2 separate regions of the Homo sapiens genome follow, and region 1 is linked to region 2. Evidence: fine-mapped expression QTL. Tissue or cell type: esophagus muscle. Region 2 holds a variant in brackets; the other region holds the start of a gene. All regions are shown on one strand. Distances are between the middles of the regions. Region 1 holds the start of GRB14 (growth factor receptor bound protein 14). Region 2 overlaps GRB14 (growth factor receptor bound protein 14).

What was found. PIP is the estimated chance that this variant, and not a neighbour inherited with it, causes the effect. A credible set is the group of variants that fine-mapping cannot tell apart.
Region 1: it holds the start of GRB14, and the variant in region 2 is the best candidate, but not a certain one, in a credible set for the expression of GRB14 in esophagus muscle (GTEx, PIP 0.52).

What each region holds. Positions count from the first base shown.
Region 1 is chr2:164,618,668-164,624,056 of GRCh38, reverse strand. It overlaps GRB14 (growth factor receptor bound protein 14), which reads left to right and starts at 2,575. Exons shown (of 14, transcript NM_004490.3): 1 at 2,575-2,938; 2 at 4,238-4,370. The coding sequence starts at 2,748.
Region 2 is chr2:164,565,354-164,570,742 of GRCh38, reverse strand. All of the region lies in intron 2 of GRB14 (growth factor receptor bound protein 14), which reads left to right. Among named protein-coding and RNA genes, the nearest start is that of GRB14, 53 kb to the left of the region's middle. The variant T/C (reference allele first, on the strand shown) is at 2,416.

The DNA.
Region 1 (5,389 bases), 53 kb before region 2:
TGCCAATCTACAAGAAAAAATTATTTAGTTTCTCATTCTCAGAGACCTGTTCCTTTTCTTTTTGCCCCTGGTAATCTCAAGGATTACAATGTCTACCCATTGGGGTCAGAGGACGAGCATAAAGCCTGCAAATTGACCCTCCTTGGATTTCCACTAAATAGGAGAATGCTTGGAAAGGGGAGACAAAATAGAGATATATTTCCAGCCAAGGAATACTCTTTCTTGAGGTTAAGAAATTATGGCAATTATGCTAGGATGTGGAGCAGGATGCACCATTGGGGAATAGCATTTCCAGTGATTCCAAAGACATATACAGATTCCACCTATCCCTTTCCCCAAGAAAAAAAAAAAATCAAAAGTGTGCTCTCTTTCTCTCTCTCTCTCTCTCTCTGTCCCACCCCCGCCGTGTGTGTGTGTGTGTGTGTGTGTGTGTGTGAGAGAGAGAGAGGAGGTGAGGAGGAGAGATAGAGAGAGAGTGTTGTTGGGAGTGGAGACAGTGTAAACTTCAGCCACTAATTCATGTGCTCAACTATATTATTCTTAGAAGAAGTGACTGCCTGCAAGAGTTCTGGATAAAATTGGGATAATGATGTTAATGATTAAAGTTTACTTATTTCTTTGTTTCTTTAGTTCAAGTTGTCTGCAACTACATACCTCATTTGTTTTTTGCTGGAATAACCTCAGTATATCTGTATGCTTTTAAATTAAATTCACTTAAACTCAGGCATAGAATCTGTAATTCAGAGAACTGGATGTGAGTGAGGGCTTTGTCTGGCACATGTGTCAATAAATGTTAGTTATCACCATGATTAGTATTATTATTTTCTTCCTGAGAAAGAGAATCACCATTTTGTCCTAGCTTAGCCAAAGTATTGTATAAACTGCAGTGTCCCCAACCTTTTTGGCACCAGGGACCGGCTTCATGGAAGAAAATTTTTCCACGGATGGGGTGGGGGTGATGGTTTCGGGATGAAACTGTTGCACCTCAGATCATCAGGCATTTGTTAGATTCTCATAAGGAGCAACCTAGATCCCTGGCAGGCATAGTTCACCAATAGGGTTCGCTCTCTTATGAGAATCTAATGCCCAGCTGATCTGACAGGGGACAGAGCTCTTGCGGTAATGCTGGTTCACCAGCCGCTCACCTCCTGCTGTGCGGCCTGGTTTCTCACAGTCCATGGACTGGTATGGTGTGGTCCAGGGCCCAGGGGTTGGGGACCCCTGGTATAAAAGATCCCAGAGATCACACCCGCTGTGACCCAGGTCACTTCTGGGCCTTAATTTTGACATTAGGAAAATAAAGAACTTGGATTCCCTGAACTGTGACTCAAGGATTTTCTGTCTTCACGGAGTGCCCCAGGTTTCCTCACAGGTTGGGAATTAGTGACCCCTGGGTTCTCCAGTGGTCGGTGCCTCGGTGGGAGAGAATGCACTGAGATGGGGGAGGGGAGCTGCTGCTTTCTTCTGGAGGCAGTGTTTACCTTTCCCTGGGCAGAGGTTGTTGAAATTAAGAAAACCTGGTAAAGCAGATGCCAGGGACAGATATTACCTAATTTGGTCAAAGAACAAAGACCCTGTGAAACATTTGGAAATCCTCAACGGTGCATAGGGACGGGCACACTTACTGGAAGAGCAGAAACAGGATCACCCAGCATTTCAGAGTAGGGTTGCTGCATCTCAGAGGGTGAGCATAATAATGTCATTACTATTTCGAACAGTCTGGGTTTTTGAGAAGGAAGCTTCTGGGTTGGAATATTGACTCCACCAGCTACTAGTGCTATGTTACTAGTGCAAGGTACTCGATGGCTTTGAGCCCCAGTTTCCTTTTGTGTAAAATGAGATAAACATCTAATTTATGGAGCTGTTGAGAGGATGGAATAGGTAGCGTAAGGCAACCTGGAATTCATTAATGTAAGCTTCTCTCATTACCATAAAACTAATAGTCTTTCTAATTCCAGACACCTTCAGGTTTACTCATGCTTTACTGAGAATTCTCAAAATCTCAGTAGTTTTCTATAATGATTGGACTCCTTGCTCCCTATCAACCCCCCAATCTTTGGCTGCGGAGTGGATGGAAGAAGAGGCACGTGGGGAAGGACTGGGGCAAACCCTCTGGTGTCCTGGCCTCCTGGCCCGGTGGGGACTGTCATGGCGGCCCAGCAACAGCTTAGGTGATCTCAGATGGCAGAGCAGAAAGAATGCAAGGGTATGAGGGTCAGGGCTGCGCGGACCCCTATCCCGCCTGCGGTCCTCCCGGCAAGCCCAGCGGGAGCGCCCGCTCGGCTGGGTCCCCGCCTCCAGCGGCGCCGGGGCCGCCCAGACCCTGGGCTCAGCCTCGCGCCCCGGTGCCCACCTGAGGAGGCAGCGGTCCCGGCCTCGCGTCCCGGATGGGACGGCGCGGGAGCAATGCCAGTGGCCCCGAGCGCCCCGGGCCACGCGCGGGGCCGGCCAGCCGCTCTCGCGCCCTCCCCGCCCCCTCCGCGCCTTGCCTCGCCGCCCGCGGCCCCCACCCACCGGCCGCTCCTCCCCTCTCCCCACCCTCCTCCTCCGCCCCCTCCCCTCCCCCGCCGCCTCGCAGATAGCTCGGCCGCGCGTCTCAGCCGCCGGGGCCCCGAGCGCAGGCGGCGAGGCCACCACACCTGCAGAGCGCTCGGGCTGCCTAGCCGGCACCTCGCCTCCCGCCGCGCAAACCCCTTCTCCCCACGCGCCGAGTCTCCCATGACGCCCGAGCCCCCCGGCCGGCGACAATGACCACTTCCCTGCAAGATGGGCAGAGCGCCGCGAGCAGGGCGGCTGCCCGGGATTCGCCGCTGGCCGCCCAGGTGTGTGGCGCTGCCCAGGGGAGGGGCGACGCCCACGACCTGGCGCCGGCCCCCTGGCTGCACGCGCGAGCGCTCCTGCCCCTTCCGGACGGGACCCGCGGCTGTGCTGCAGACAGGTAGGCAACCCTGGAGGGCGCGGGGGAGTGTCCTGGCTGGGCAGCCGGCGAGGGGGTGAGGAGGCGGTCCTAGGGGGTGAGCCATGTGCCCAGAGCTGGGCCAAGTTTGTAAAAGTCTCTGAAGACAATCCCCTTTGAGCTGGCTCCTACCGGATCAGCAGGACATTGCGATCTCACAGCGCCTTATAAATAGCATCACCGTTTCATTGAGAGCTCTCATCTCTCTCGCCTCTGCCCATCGGTGGTGAAACTAGGAGCTCAGGCTGCAGGCTGATCACCTTCTGTTCCTTCGTGGCCATGCATTTTCACAAAGTAAACTCTATTTTATTTTATATATTTTAAAAAAATCGTAGCATAAATGTATTCACCTCCCACATAGAGTCTTACAGCGACCCTGTAGAAGCAAAGCATGGATTGACATTCGAGCAGTCTTGCTGTTCGGCAGGAAAGAATAGAGGCTTTAAAGGGTTTCCCAATCTCCATAGCATTCAGCACTAAGTGCCTTTAGAGTTGCACATACTTTCGGAAAGAAAAAGGGTTACAGCAATACAAAAATCTATAGTCCTTTATATTCATACATTTAAATGTTACTTTTTTTTTCCTGATTTTCAAAGCGCTCCAACTTCAGTGAAGTTAAAATTACTCTCCAGTGGACTATAGTACATTTATACTAGCAAGTTCTATTAACTTACCGCCTCAAAACACTGCCTTGCTGTTTAATATCTATAAGCGCTTGAAAAATCAACAGACTGTGTGTGGGCAACATTGTGAATGAAATTTGAAGTGAGATGAACCACAGCTATAATTAATAAATCATAACTTCCAAAAGTGATTAGTAAAATATCATAAGGATGAATGCACTAAATGCAACTTAGAGACTGTCAATATCATGGATGCATAACAATGTATGACTTCTCAGGTGATGTTTGGATTAGTAATTGTATAGTCTATTTTTCTGTTTCAGGAAAATTATCAAAAGTGATGGAGTTTCTATGCCTGGTGATTTAAAGGCAAGAGAGAGAGAAGGCGGTGGGGGGGGGAGGGGTGGTGGGAGGGGAGAGAGAGAGAGAGAGAGAGAGACAGAAAGAGAGGAACTATAGGAGATTTGTTTGTATCTAATTAACATACTGTATTTTGACCCATAGAAAGTACATCACAGACCTTTTCTATATACTTTATATAATATGAGCCTTGTCACAGAGTGGTACATGTTCGCCTTAGCACACTTTTTATTCCTGACAGCAATTATATTTTACATTCTGTTTTATGTAAATTACATCCTATGTTCTCTTACTGTAGGAGAAAAAAGAAAGATCTTGATGTTCCGGAAATGCCATCTATTCCAAACCCTTTTCCTGAGCTATGCTGTTCTCCATTTACATCTGTGTTGTCAGCAGACCTATTTCCCAAAGCAAATTCAAGGAAAAAACAGGTATGCATTTTTAAATTTTAAATTTCAAAAATCTTAGGAGTTCTGAATCCATACAGTCTTTAAGGTGTTCCGTAATTTACAGTATTAACAAAGGATTAGCATGGGCTCTGTTAAATAACTCTGTTGACTGACATGGTCCTTTGGCATTATTTTCCATTTAGGGCCTTATTCTTCTAAGCCGTATAATGGGAATGTTAAAACCTACCTCCGAGGGTCTTGGGATGGATTAAAACAGAGAATATATATAAAGTGCAGTGGTTGAGAACAATAATCATTCACCAGATAGGTAGAAGAGATGATCATTTTTAAGCCAGGAATTGGGCAGAGGCTGGGACGGGGTGGGCAGTAGTAGTGGGGTGAGAAGGGGATTGACTGATTCCTTTAATACTTTCTTTAATTTTTCACATTTTCAACCCAAGCCAACCTCATTTACCTAAGGAAAGTGATATAGTGATGCTGTGGCAAAAGGTATTTAGAATTTAGGGTCAACATGTCTTCATTTCAGTGGATTCCTCAGTTTGGAGGCTCTGGCTGCAGAAGATAGATGACTCGTAGTGATAATTAGAAGACTAAGGACCATATCTTTATGATTTTCTCCTTTTCTAGTTTGGGATTGACTTAAGCAAATTAGATTTTAAGGACCAAGCAACTAACAGAAAATACATCATGGCTGTACATTTGGAGGGGAAAAAAATAGTGTATCATAGAATAATTCATCTCTTGTCATATACTTTCTCCCAGTTTTGACCCAGCAAAACAAAGAGAAGCCTCACTAGACAAAATGCACCTTATTCTTACAAGGGTGGAAACAATACATTGAAATAGCCAGGTACTTGAAATGGGAGAAGGATAATGAACAGCGAGGACAAGACAGTTGGCCATTTTTCCGCGTCTATTGCTCTCTTTCTTATTTCTGCACCTTTATTGCTTCTAATGGGTTCAACTATGTGTGTTTATATTTTTAGGAATGGAGGAAATACCTTAGGAAGCAGATGAATTATTGATCATATACAGAAATG
Region 2 (5,389 bases):
TACAAAACAGCATTTCTAACTTCCCCATCATCTAGACTTCAAACCTCAGAGTAAACTTTGAGACCTTGACCCTGTGTTCACATCAGTTTTCAAGTTCTGCATATTCCTCACCTCTATTCACTTTTCAAAGCAAGTGCCGTTTCCTTCTTGCAGCCTGCCCTGATCTTACCCCTATTGTGCAGTTGCTTCTACCTTGGTGCACCCTTGATACTTAGCATTTAATCACTGTTAGTCTCAACTTACCACTGAATGGGATATTTTAACTTAAAAATTAATATCTCTATTCCACTATGAGACAGTGACCTTAACTGTCTTAATAATAGTGTGTTCCTACTGCCTGATACAGGGTTTGGCAAATAGTACTTTGCTTGATAATTTAGTGAAATGAATTACTTTCATTATGATGGAACCCCAGTAAAATTTTTGAGACCAGAGATAACACTTTTTTTTTTTTTTTTTTTTTTTTTAGATGGAGTCTTGCTCTGTCACCCAGGCTGGAGTGCAGTGGCGCGATCTCGGCTCACTGCAACCTCCACCTCCCGGGTTCAAGCAATTCTCCTGCCTCTCAGCCTTCCGAGTAGCTGGGACTACAGGCACGTGCCACCATGCCTGGCTAATTTTTTGTATTTTTAGTAGAGGCAGGGTTTCACAGTGTTAGCCAGGATGCAGAGATAACACTTTGTAATATTTGAAGGCTAAATTGAGAAAAGAAGACAGATAAGGCCAAATATTATGGGTGATATTCTTGAAATTATTTGTTACCATGGTCTTTGTTATTGTTGGCTTGCTGAAAAGTAGCTCAAGGTTAGAACAGAATCTTTTACTTCACAAATGCTAACCCCCCATCGCTGTATTAGTTGGTATTTGCTTTCTTGGTAATTTTCTTTTAAAAGATCATGATAAACCTAACTGGATAAGGATCAAATTAATTAATGCCTCCAAAATAGATCTGTGACTTTTTATATTAAGCGCATTACTGCCACTCCCAACTACCATTCTGAGGGATTTTTGGTTTTGAAATTCAAAGCAGGGATCCTTGGAGTTGTAGTGTCTCTTTTTTCTTTTGAGGAATATGAGCTCACCATGCATATTAAACTCACTTATGTATAAAGCAGTAAAGTGAACACTGCCTAGTAGCAGTCAAGATAACGAAATGGAAAGTTTGTGTCTGTGTTGCTGAGTATCTTCCATTTTGCCTTGTTACTACAACAACCACATTGTAATCTGGAAATTACCAGTTCTTCTCCCGCTGAAGGCAGTGGGTCAGGATTGAAGAGCATTGAGCAGTTCAGTGAAGCTTGTCCAGATGTCAGTCCAGAAGAGATTTTACAATTGTAAAAGCTCAGATTAGTTTTAACGTTGCAATCCTTTTTGTCATTTTTGAGTGTTTCTTTCATTTTTTATTTAGACTTCATTGAAATTTTTCTTGTTAGTTATAGATGTTTTCCATTGTAAACCTCCTCCAGCCTCCCTCCCCTAGAAACATTAGAATAAACTTTTCAGTTTTTATGAGAAGAAATGCAAAATGGTCATTAAAATTTTGAGAAAGTTTTGGCAGTGGTTATTTTTTAAATGCTTTTAATGGAATGAAATATGCTACATCACACACATTTGTGCTTTTTAAAAACATAAGTATTTGAGATTGATATATTGTAGTTTAATCCCCTCTTTGTATTTAATACTATTATTTAGGTTTATTGTTAAAATAATATTTAACAGTGTGTGATATCAAGGATAGCTGGAAGGCTTATAATACAAAAATTTTAATGTTTAGGAAATGAAAGATATTAATATATATTAAAACTCTTTTATTATACCATAGAAATTAACACTTTGTGCCAATTCTAACCTCAGGATTATTTTTTGTGCCTTGTGTATGTTCCAGTTGATCTCTTCATCAATTTTATGAATAGCATAAGTAAATTTAGTTCATTAATATATTTATATACTTTAAATAGACCAATGTAAACAGATTCTTATCTGCCATATGTTGAAATGCTTTAGTAAAGACATAACTGCCTAGTCAACAAAGATGGCATTGAATTGCACTGTTTTGGAAAAAAAGTTGAGCGAACTAGATGCCTGTTAATCTGGTTCTTTAAATATCATAAACAAAAGTATCAGAATGTGTTTCCAAGGACAAAGGCGGGGTTTTCCGGGCTTTGATTGGTTGCTGCCTTGTCCTGTCCCACAGCCATCCTTAATTGGCTTTGGGTAGATTGGAATCACATAAGCAGGGTGACATTTATTACTTTCCTAGTTGTTTCATTGCACTGAGCCCTGAGATTCCCAAGGAGTAACCATAAAAGATTTCTTTTATTTTGTCCATGACCTACGAGACAGGATCATTCTAAGAAGAGCAGGCATGAGTTTGAGTGCAAGAAGAGTCACTCTGCCTGCAATAACGCCAATAAT[T/C]CTACAGAAAAGGGTATGTGACTTCTTTATCCTTTTTTTCTTTAATTTTTCTTGCTGCTTTTTTTCCCCTGTTACTGTGTGTTTATTAATACATAGGAAGCTTTACTTACATACCCTTGAAAGAGCCTATAATTCATTAAAGTTGTAGGTAAAATTAAAGGACATATTATTGGAATTGAACTAGGAAAAATAATACTGCGCTAGGACATCGCTATAGTTAAAAACTTTCACCTAAAAGAAGTTTGATCTCGATTTCAGGTCACTGTGATTTAGAGACTGTATTGAAACTTTTCCTTTTTTTTCTTTCTACTGTAACTTCAAGCCTCTTTGTTTTTAGCTCAGTAGGAAATCTGCTGTTATGTCTTATATTTGTTTACTAAGGAATAGTTTCTTTGTTTCACCATAATTCATAATATATCAATCTCTTCATTGTTGAATAGACTATACAATTATTTTACTGTTTAAACATGTGTTACCAGTTTATTCTCAGGTTTCTACCCATTTCTATTGAGCTTCTGCGTATTTGCTTAAGAAAAACTTTCCATTAAATTCCCCTGTGAAAGGGCTTTCTGTTAATTATTAATGCAGTCAATCCTGTGTATGAAAATATTTTATTTATTAGTTTTTTGTAAAGATTATTTTTATGTCTCACTTACAGCATTGCATTTTACAAGGTGGTATATGCAACCATGTCATGTAGTCATAGTAAACTTTTCTTGTAACTCTCCAAAATAAGAACATTGCACTGGACTTCTTAAAGAATCAAATCTGTCGCATTGAGAAGGAAGGCACTAAAACTCAGTTTTGGCAATATGCTTACCAAATGGTTTTGGTGACACTAGAAACTGTAGTGTTTATTTTTGAACTCAACTTTTAATAGTTAACTGTTAACTATCAGTGCATTCCATTAAGTCAAAGGTCATGTTGCAATTTATTTGAAACATGGCAAATCTAACAGTTAAAGTGGCTATAGTTTTTAAAAACGAAGTGCCTCTTTACTATTTTTAATTTTTAGATTTTCAGCTTATTTTCTTATCCAGTCAACCATTTATTTACTGAGAATATTTTATTTGGCATTGGAACAGCTATATGATAATTTTGCCAACATGAGTTCTTTATCTTTCTTGAGGCCTTTTGCTAATTGTAAGCAAATTTAATTAAAAATATTTTGCTTTGGGTTTTAACTTTTATTTGGAATTGGACTTAGCAGTGCATTAATAATGACAATATAGGTTCCTGGACTCACTGAGGATGTGAAAAGGCATATTAACATTTATCAAGTCTATGTTCTCATGTTTGAATTCTTCTTTATCCGGTTAATATTGCAGTTTAGATTGACTAAGAAACTTCTATCATATGGTTTGTTTTTGATGACATGTTGGTATGATGGAAAATGTACTATCTGGACTCTCCATTTACTAGCCCTGTGACTTTGGGCAAATCCAGTAAACTCTTGGAGTCTTTACTTCCTCATCTGTATAACAAACTGAGGAGTTTTCAGTAAATAATATCTTCAGTCTTATTTGTGTCTATAATTCTGTGAACCAAATATTTTATATTTTCATGGTTATAGTAAAATATGTAAATTATTTTTATTATTTTAGAATTATTATAAAACATTAGGAAAGAATGCTGTAATTTTCAAGGAGTTTGAACAATTAGCCTAGGGGAAATTGGTTATGGGAAAACTTGGCTAGAAAAATAACTTCTAGCACTGTTTGCCAAGTAGGAAAACAAGATTACTCTGGAAAGCGGTGGTTATTATTGATGTTACATCTGAGCTGCCAATGGTCACCTCATTGTGATTTATCGTGGTATTTTAATAATAAGCTTCTTGTCAAGTTTCTGTTATAATATTTATAAAAGTCAAAATTCCCTAGACTCAAGTCTATGCTATTTTTTTCAGTGAGTGCACATATTTTGGTGTTTATATAATTTAGCACACCATTATGTGCTTCTCCTGATATTTTAACTCTGAAAATACCCATTTGATTGTTCTGAAGATCTTAATGTCTTTTATTTTAGGAGTTGGGTATTTTCTGATTTAAAAATCATCCATCTGCCCTGGTCACACCATGATTAATTTTTTCTTCCAATATAAGAAGTTATTTCATACTTGTAATTAATTTATTTTCCATATATGCCATAATTTTAAATGATCTTATAAATCAGTACAAGCATTTCTCAGAGAATTTGGGGAGCAACTTATTTTCCCATGAAGGCAGGTGCTTTTTCCACAGGTTTGGTGTAAAGTTCACTCATCCTGAATGAGTGGCCCTTGACAAATAATTTATCAAATGGAATCCTAATCATTTAAAAGGCTGAGAGCATTCTGAAAATGCTCCGTAGCAATAGGGAGTAATTTTCTTATCAGGTAGTGTGTCTGATCCAAGTGGCTGTAAGTGTCTCTGGTAGTGCTTAGGAACTTGAATTTTAAACATGGCCCTTCATGTGGTATAGATCTATTTTGTAGCAGAGAAAGTACGCCTTGATCTTTGAGAAGAAAGGTATTTTGGTAGATTCTCTATCAAGTAAATTGGAAAGAAAATGTTCACTTCCAAATTCTATTAGGATCTGATTTCTCTGATTTAAGTGAATTAAGGTTCTGGTGAAGAACGTTCCTCATGTGCTTCAGAAACGATCACATCCTCAGCAAACATTGTGAATGAATCTTTTACCTCATCGCATTTTTCTCAGATCATCACTAGGTTGTAGCTTTTTACTTTTTCAAATGAGAAGACTGAGTCTCTTGGGTGTTGAGTGACTTATGCAAGGTCACCCAGAAGGTCAGTGGCAGAGCTAGAAATAGAATCTAGATCTTGTGACTTCCAGTATGCTTCTCCTAGATACGTGTTACCTCCTGAAATTAATATGGAAATGAAATTGCCTTATGGTGGGTATAATTGCCATTCAAGTCTGGAATTAGCTTAGGCAAATCCTTTCATCTTCCTCTGCACCTCCACCAACTCCCTTA